Homo sapiens: one gene and its partner. The protein of the gene in region 2 purifies or fractionates together with the protein of the main gene of each other region. This does not show direct contact. Each region holds a gene or a part of one and is shown on either strand. Other genes may lie near its edges.

The links.
Region 1: the proteins of CRYBA4 (region 2) and EML5 purify together in Homo sapiens (affinity purification with mass spectrometry; 2 studies listed by BioGRID and IntAct, with this or other methods). This does not show direct contact.

What each region holds. Positions count from the first base shown.
Region 1 is NC_000014.9:88,614,954-88,618,453, reverse strand, and holds part of EML5 (echinoderm microtubule-associated protein-like 5), read left to right. Parts: exon of another isoform or gene 1-122; coding exon 123-226; exon of another isoform or gene 227-1,574; coding exon 1,575-1,728; coding exon of another isoform or gene 1,729-1,941; exon of another isoform or gene 1,942-2,211; coding exon 2,212-2,312; coding exon of another isoform or gene 2,313-2,409; exon of another isoform or gene 2,410-2,599; coding exon 2,600-2,636; 3' UTR 2,637-3,500. UniProt on the Homo sapiens protein: May modify the assembly dynamics of microtubules, such that microtubules are slightly longer, but more dynamic.
Region 2 is NC_000022.11:26,620,710-26,624,762, reverse strand, and holds the start of CRYBA4 (beta-crystallin A4), read right to left. Parts: upstream 2,801-4,053; 5' UTR 2,777-2,800; intron 2,179-2,776; coding exon of another isoform or gene 2,167-2,178; coding exon 2,128-2,166; intron 1,530-2,127; coding exon 1,411-1,529; intron 1-1,410. UniProt on the Homo sapiens protein: Crystallins are the dominant structural components of the vertebrate eye lens.

The DNA of each region.
Region 1 (3,500 bases), on a different chromosome or scaffold from region 2:
TGCATACTTAATAATGTTAGACATGTAAATCAAGTAGCAATATGCTAGTATTCTGTAAACCCCCTGTGGATTTTGTCTCTCACCTAATGGAATTCTTGTCCCATTTTAATCTGATGAAAAAGGTCTCTAGTGGCTGCTATAAACGGCATGTCTATGAAGTGCCTTCAGGAAAACATCTTATGGATCATGCCGCTATTGACAGAATTACTTGGGCTACATGGACTAGGTAAATACTTATATATTCACAAGGCAAGAACTGACTTTGAAGGCCAGTTAGAAAATCCTATTTCTGAACTGTTAGAGCCATTCCAATAAGGAATAGTAATTGAGTTTCAAGTTTTTGTTACCATATTTTGAAATGGTATGTTCATGTTGGGACCCCTTTTTATTGAATATATTTCCATGTTTTATCAGTTTCCATGATTTATCAAGTTTTTTTTTTAAGGAAATCAAAGTTTTAACTTTAAAGATACCCTGATATTTTTCTTAATGCTAAATTTAATGACTGGCAAAAAGGTATTGGGTGCTGTTAAGCAACTGTTATTAATTCTCTATCTAAAGGAATGCTATCTTGAATCTATTAGAAGTCAAAGCTTCCAAATTTGTTCAAATTTCCTGGCTGTATGACAGGTAACCATGACTATCCATTTTTTTGGCCAATGAAAAATGCCATCAAATTCCTGTATCAGCCAGGCATATAGTGGCTCATGCCTGTAATCTCTGATGTAGCAGGCCGAGGTGGGAGGATCACTTGAGCCTAGAAGTTTTGATACCAGCCTGGGCAACATAGCAAGACCCCATCTCTGAAATTTTTTTAATTCCTATGTCATAAGTCATTTTTATTTTTGTAGAGATAGGGATCTCACAATATTGCCCAGGCTGGTCTCAAACTCTTGGCCTCAAGCAGTCCTCCTGCCTCAGCCTCCCAAAATGTTGGGATTACTGGTATGTGCTGCTGGACCCAGCCAAGTAGCACTTTTAATTTGAAAAATAGTTCTATCAGTTTTCAGTCAGGCGCGGTGGCTCAGCCTGTAATCCCAGCACTTTGGGAGGCCGAGCGGGGGTGATCACCTGAGGTCGGGAGTTCGAGACTAGCCTGACCAACATGGAGAAACCCTGTCTCTACTAAAAATACAAAATAAGCCGGGCATGTTAGCGCATGCCTGTGATCCCAGCTACTCGGGAGGCTGAGGCAGGAGAATTGCTTGAACCCAGGAGGCAGAGGTTGCGGTGAGCCGAGATCATGCCATTGCACTCCAGCCTGGGTAACAAGAGCGAAAACTCCGTCTCAAAAAAAAAAAAAGAAAAAATAGTTCTATCAGTTTTCATAAAGTACTACTTTAATCTTAAAAAGATTAATCTAGAAACCCTTCAAATTATAAAATGTCATTTTTAAAAGGCAGGAGTTGATATCCTGATGAAATTCAGGTCTCCAAACAACTTACCATAATTTACTTCCTGTATTTTAAGTAACATGATAGGGTACTTAGAGATTAATTGCCAAGAAACTTTTTGAATATAGTCAACCTGCCCGCACTTGCCATGATGAGTTTTCTTTTGTTCCTTCCCTCTAGTATTCTAGGAGATGAGGTTTTGGGAATCTGGTCCAGACATGCTGAGAAAGCTGATGTCAACTGTGCCTGTGTATCTCATTCAGGAATCAGTCTTGTTACAGGAGATGACTTTGGCATGGTTAAGTTATTTGACTTCCCATGTCCAGAAAAATTTGTAAGTTTGTGTTTTGTTTACTATTATCAGTTTACTCCTAATTTTGATGTCTTATCATCAGCACTTTTCCCCATATATTTAAAATGTTTTGTCCTAATTTCTAAATTTTTCCCCAAACTTTCTAAATCTATTTACTTTGAAATAAAAGCTATTAGAAACAAATCCTCTCCCTCGAGTAATACCATCTTTGGAACCATCCTACAAAAGCTGTAATTAGCTTTTCACCAAACCTATAATCAGTTATCAAATTTCAAATGCTTTTCCTTAGAGAAAAATGGTCAGAGTACCTGGAGACATCTGACTGCCCACACAGCCTGGTTTTGCAGATCCACTACTCATGCTGAAAAGCATTCTAATCACTGGCTGCGGTGCTAACTCCCTACTCTCTCCACAGCTCTTGTCATAGAGATTATAGTTCCTAATAAGAGCCTTTGACTTCTGTGTGCACCAAATGCCCTGAGCTTGTCTGTCATTGTTTTTTAGGCAAAACACAAAAGGTTCTTGGGTCATTCGCCCCATGTGACAAATATTCGATTTACCAGTGGTGATCGACATGTTGTTAGTGCTGGAGGTGATGACTGCAGGTTAGTAACTTTCTCAGCCCATGAAGAGCAGACTATGTTACTAGTTAAGAGACTTAATACAACAACTCCTACAGCTTTGGTTTATGAAATCAGCTAGTCAACATTAGTAGAAGGTAGTATAACCAGATGGCTCTTCAGAATCTCATATTTATGCAAATACAGAATAAAAGGAGTTAAAGAGGAAAAATATTACACATGTAACCTGAAAGCACAACTGAAAAATATTAAACTGTTATGAAAATCTAAAAACATAATTAACTCCCTGCAATTTTCTTCTCTGATTGCAGCTTATTTGTCTGGAAATGTGTACATACACCTCACTGAGAGATGCTGAGATGACTACAGAAATTAACTTTGAGACCAGAATTACAGAGAAGAAAAACCAAAACCCAACCCTGCATGGTCAAGTGGTGCTAACCCAAGACTGTAACAGGGAGAAATGCCCAGAATCATCAAAATAGTGAAAGACTGATCTGTTCAAAATATTTGCTATATGCACTGGGTATAATCCGTAATCCATACACTGCCAGATAATGCCATTTCAAGGAAGGATCGAATACTTGATGGTAAAGGCCAAGTCCCCCTGTATTGGGAAGTGTGTGATTTCGGCAGACCTGCTGGGAAAATTTAGGGTAGAGCACTCTTTACAGAAGAACTCAAAAACCCAATTTGGATAATTTTCATTATCTTTTTAGCAAAATGGTTTCTTAATGTTTATATTTTATTTTCAAGGTTCATTGTTTAATGAAATATTTTATTCTTGCATTTCCATAAGGAAAGGGAAAGTCATGATCATCCTAAAGGATCACAGTTTTTAAAAGGCAAACATTTTCCCTAAGGAAACAGACACAAGCTTTCCTAGAGAATATGATGTTTTTTAGGCATTAATAAGGTCCTTTTTTATAAAGGACACTTTTCTCCTAGTAGTTTTGAATTCAGGAACAGATCCAAAGTTAGCAGTATATGGCTGCTACATTTCCATTTTCATTTTCGAGCCATCAGTTTATGTTCAGATGCCATCTCTGTAATCGCACATTTAAAACATAACTGTAGCCTCACTAATGGAAAAGTAGTATGATGAACAATCATTCCCAATGGTGTACAATGTAAGGGTTTTAGGGAGCAACAGTATTTAACTGGAAGAAAGAATTGCATATTTAATGTAGTCTAATATATACACATTTGTTT
Region 2 (4,053 bases):
GGACAAGGGACACAGGAGGCTGCACCTTGCCTTTACTGTCTGTATAAGTAATAAACTGTCTGAATCTATCCAAGCTCATTGTCTGCTTACTGGCTGAGTCTGTCAGCCTGCTGGACATACCCCTAGAAAGCCTCTGTTCCCATCTGACCCCCATTCCCCACCTGCACAAATCAGAAGCTAAAAGAGTATTTACTAAAGCATGAGATGTGCAAAAATCACCCAAGATGACCTCAGGTGGCACTCACAGGTGTAGCATTAAGTGACTCCAAATCTCCTATCTACTTTCCAAACTTCTACAACCTTCTATCCAATATGGTAGCTACTGGCCACATCTCCTGTCTATCTACTTTCCAACTTTCTAGAACCTTCTATCCAATATGGTAGCTACTGGCCACATTGCCTTTCTAGCTACTTTCCAACCTTCTAGAACCTTCTATCCAATATGGAAGCTACTGGCCACATCTCCTTTCGATCTACTTTCCAAACTTCTAGAACTTTTATCCAGTATGGTAGCTACTGGCCACACCTCCTTTCTATTTACTTTCCTGCCTTCTAGAAACTTCTATCCAATATGGTAGCTACTGGCCACATCTTTCCAACTACTTTCCAAACTTCTAGAGCCTTCTATCCAATATGGTAGCTACTGGCCACATCTCCTTTCTACCTGCTTTCCAACCTTCTAGAACCTTCTATCTAATATGGTAGCCACTGGCCATATGTAGCTAATTAAATTTAAACTTAAATAAATTAAGATTAAACAAGATTCAGTTCTCTACTCATGCTGGCTACCTTTCAAATCCTCAATGGTCACATCTGGCCAGTGGCTCTGAAATGGATGGTGTAGATGTAGAACATCTCCATCATTGCAGACAGGTCCACTGAATGACACTGGTCTAGAAAGTCTTGGTGTGTTATTAGTGTGTCCTTAACACCTCTCTGTGTCTCACTAATCTCTCTCTCTCACTCTCTTTTTTGTTTTTTAATTTTTTTTTTTTTTACAAAAAATGATCAGGCCACATGCTTAGCAGCAAGACTATTTAGCTAAAAATTAATAGCATTAAAACATTATGTTTATTTTTACAGTTACCTTCTACTTTAGGCGGGTGATGTTGGCTTTCAATTTACGGCTGGGAGGGACATTTTTAGATCCAACACTGGATTCTAAGGATCTCCTGCAGAACTGCCTCATCCAGTGGGCAGGGTCTGTGTAAATGGCACCCTCCTACTGTTGGGCAGTGCGCAACCTGCATAATCTTACATGGCAGTCCTGCACACTCCTCAGTACTTCAGGAGGGCACAACAGTAAGAGCCTAGGGAGAGGGGACCTAGAATATCTAAAAGTCCTAGCACCCGTCTCTAGGTCCCTTCCTGTCCACCCTCTACCCCAACTCAGTGTCCCCCTAGACTCACGCTCCACTCAGCACTTTCAAAGATCGCACAGTCTCGAAGCCAAGCTCCAGCACGCTGGGGCACTCGGCCGTGAACTCGTGCCGCCGGCCCTGGAAGCCGTCCTCATCCCACACCACCATCTGTGCCAGGAAAAAAAAAAGGTGGAGATCCGCATCAGAGTCCCGTGAAGGGTGAGAGGTTGGGGGCTCGCCCCAGGATCTGGCAGGTAAAGCAGGGATTGCAAACTCAGATTCCTCCAGGAGCCAGGAAGGCAAGAGCAGTGATAAATGTGAGACACTAGACAGCACAGGTGCCAGGTAAATGGGTGGCCTCTTCCCAGTGCCACCAATGGTTGCCAAGTGGGAATGCAGGCCAGACCTTCCAATTTCTCAAGACAATCACTAGATCTGGACTTTTATGTGGTTCTTCCAGGCTTTTAAAGGCTGATGATAAATCCAAAAGCTTTATAAAACAAACAAACACACACAGAGATGGTCAAAGAAATCATGCCCAAAGACTGCAACCTCTGCCAAAGAGTGTAACAGGTCAACTTTGGGAACCAGAAGACCCAAATTCACATTCAACCTCCCTGTATGTGACATACAAGTCCCTTCTCAACTCTGAGCCTTGATTGCACCTCTGTGAAATAGGCATTTATAATGCCCCCCTCCTAGGATTCATGGGGACCTGAACCCTCCCCATACCCCCTGAACACCCCCTCCCCATGCCTCTTCCTACCTTCCAGGGTCCCGCTGACTTTGTGCATTGCAGGGTCATTGTGGCCCCTTCCTGCAGAAGAGAAGAACATTATAATCTTCCACCCTGACCCTCTGCTCTCCTCTTTATGCAGATGGCTGGCTTGGACCTGGTCAGGATCCACATAGGGAGTCCAGGAGTGACTGGGCTAGGGGCAATGCATGGCTTTGGCCTGTCCCTCTCCTGTCCTTTCCATCTGTCACCAATGCCATCTTCCATCCTATCCCCATCTCAAAACTCACCCTTGCTGGGTCTCATTGACTCTGAGCCCCACTCTGTATTCTCTTATCTGCTTGTTATGGGAAAATTTTTGTGGCTGCTGGTGGGTGGGTGCATCACCCCAGCGAGTGCTGAAATGCTCAGCATAAGAGAGCCCTTCCAAAGACAGCACCTAGCTCAAAGAGGTAGCTCTGATGGTGGAAATTTAGGCAATAGGGCTACAGGAATAATTTGTTTTTAAATGAGGGAAGCAGGTGCTGGTCTTGATGGTTGGGGCTCATCCTTGGTTAGGATGAGGATGGCATTCAGGATGACACAGTGACATCCCTAGGACTGGGGACCTGGGTTCCTCGCCTCCCAGAATGCTCACTCAGAACTCTGATCCCACCCCTCCTCCAAACCTGGGACTTACCGAGATAGGCCCAGGGAACATGTCAGATCTGAGACCAGCCGAGGTCGGGCTCTTATAGGCAGGGAGGGAAGAGGGGCCCCTGGGAGACAAAGCCCCGACTCAGCAACTGGGCCACAGAAACAAAAGCCAGCCCTGGCTGAAGAGCCAATGGCAAGCCGTCAGCAGCTCTGGCTTTAGCAGGGAGGGAAAGGACCAGATCACCACCCCCAGGGATCAGCCACGAAGAAGGAGAGAGGTGGAATATTGGCCCTCATCAGCCCCACAAGGTTCCTGACTAGAGCAGGAGAATGAGCACTAGATGAGGAGTCCAGAAGCATCCTTCCTAGCTATGTGAGCTCCAGCGAGTCATTTCCCCTCAATTTCTGCCTATAAAATGGGGCAGAAACAAACCATATCACAGAGTTGTTGTGAGGTTACATAACATGCCTGGTACAGAGTAAACATTCAGGAAATGCCTATTCCTTTCCTTCTCTCTTTCCCCTTTCTCTTCCAGTTGAAGCAATCCAGATAGGCTTGCCGTTAGAGGAGGCATTTGAACTAGACTCTGAAGGATGAGGAAGATATGTACAGAGTGAGATGGAAGGAGAGGCATTCTAAGAAAAAGTTCAGAGGTGGGAACTTGGGGCACATGTACAAGAAAGAGCTGGTAGCCCAATTGGCCTGGAGCTCAGGGGACCTGAAGGGAAGTGAGGCAGGAGAAGAGGGCTAGGCCAGGGCCTGCTGGGTCCACAAAGCCTGAAGATGAATCCGGATGGCACTGTGGGCAGCATAGAGGAGCTGTTAGTTGCAAACATGCTTTGCAAACTGTGGCACACTTGCCAAATATCCAGGACTTGTACAATTTGCTGTGTGCCTCTTGTCCCGAAACCCTGCCCTCTGAATTGGCGTATGAGGGACCTAAGAGGTCCCTCATACATACATACTTGTGTGTAAAATGGGTGTAACAAGCATAGGAAAACAGCATGACTGGAAACCAGATCATCTGAGATGAAATCCAGCCCTGCTTCTTTCTTACCATCCGTGTGACCTGGAGGACACCTGAGTCCTGCTCATGACCTGTAAAGTGGCCACACCAGTTTCCTTTTAAGAGGGTGAAATGCAGCTCTATCAAACGCATGACTTTAGGCTGGGCGCAATGGCTCACGCCTGTAATCTCAGCACTTTGGGAGGCCGAGGTGGGTGGATCACCTGAGGTCAGGAGTTCAAGACCAGGCTGGCCAACATGGTGAAACCCCGTCTCTACTAAAAACACAAAAATTAGCCGGGAGTAGCGCGGG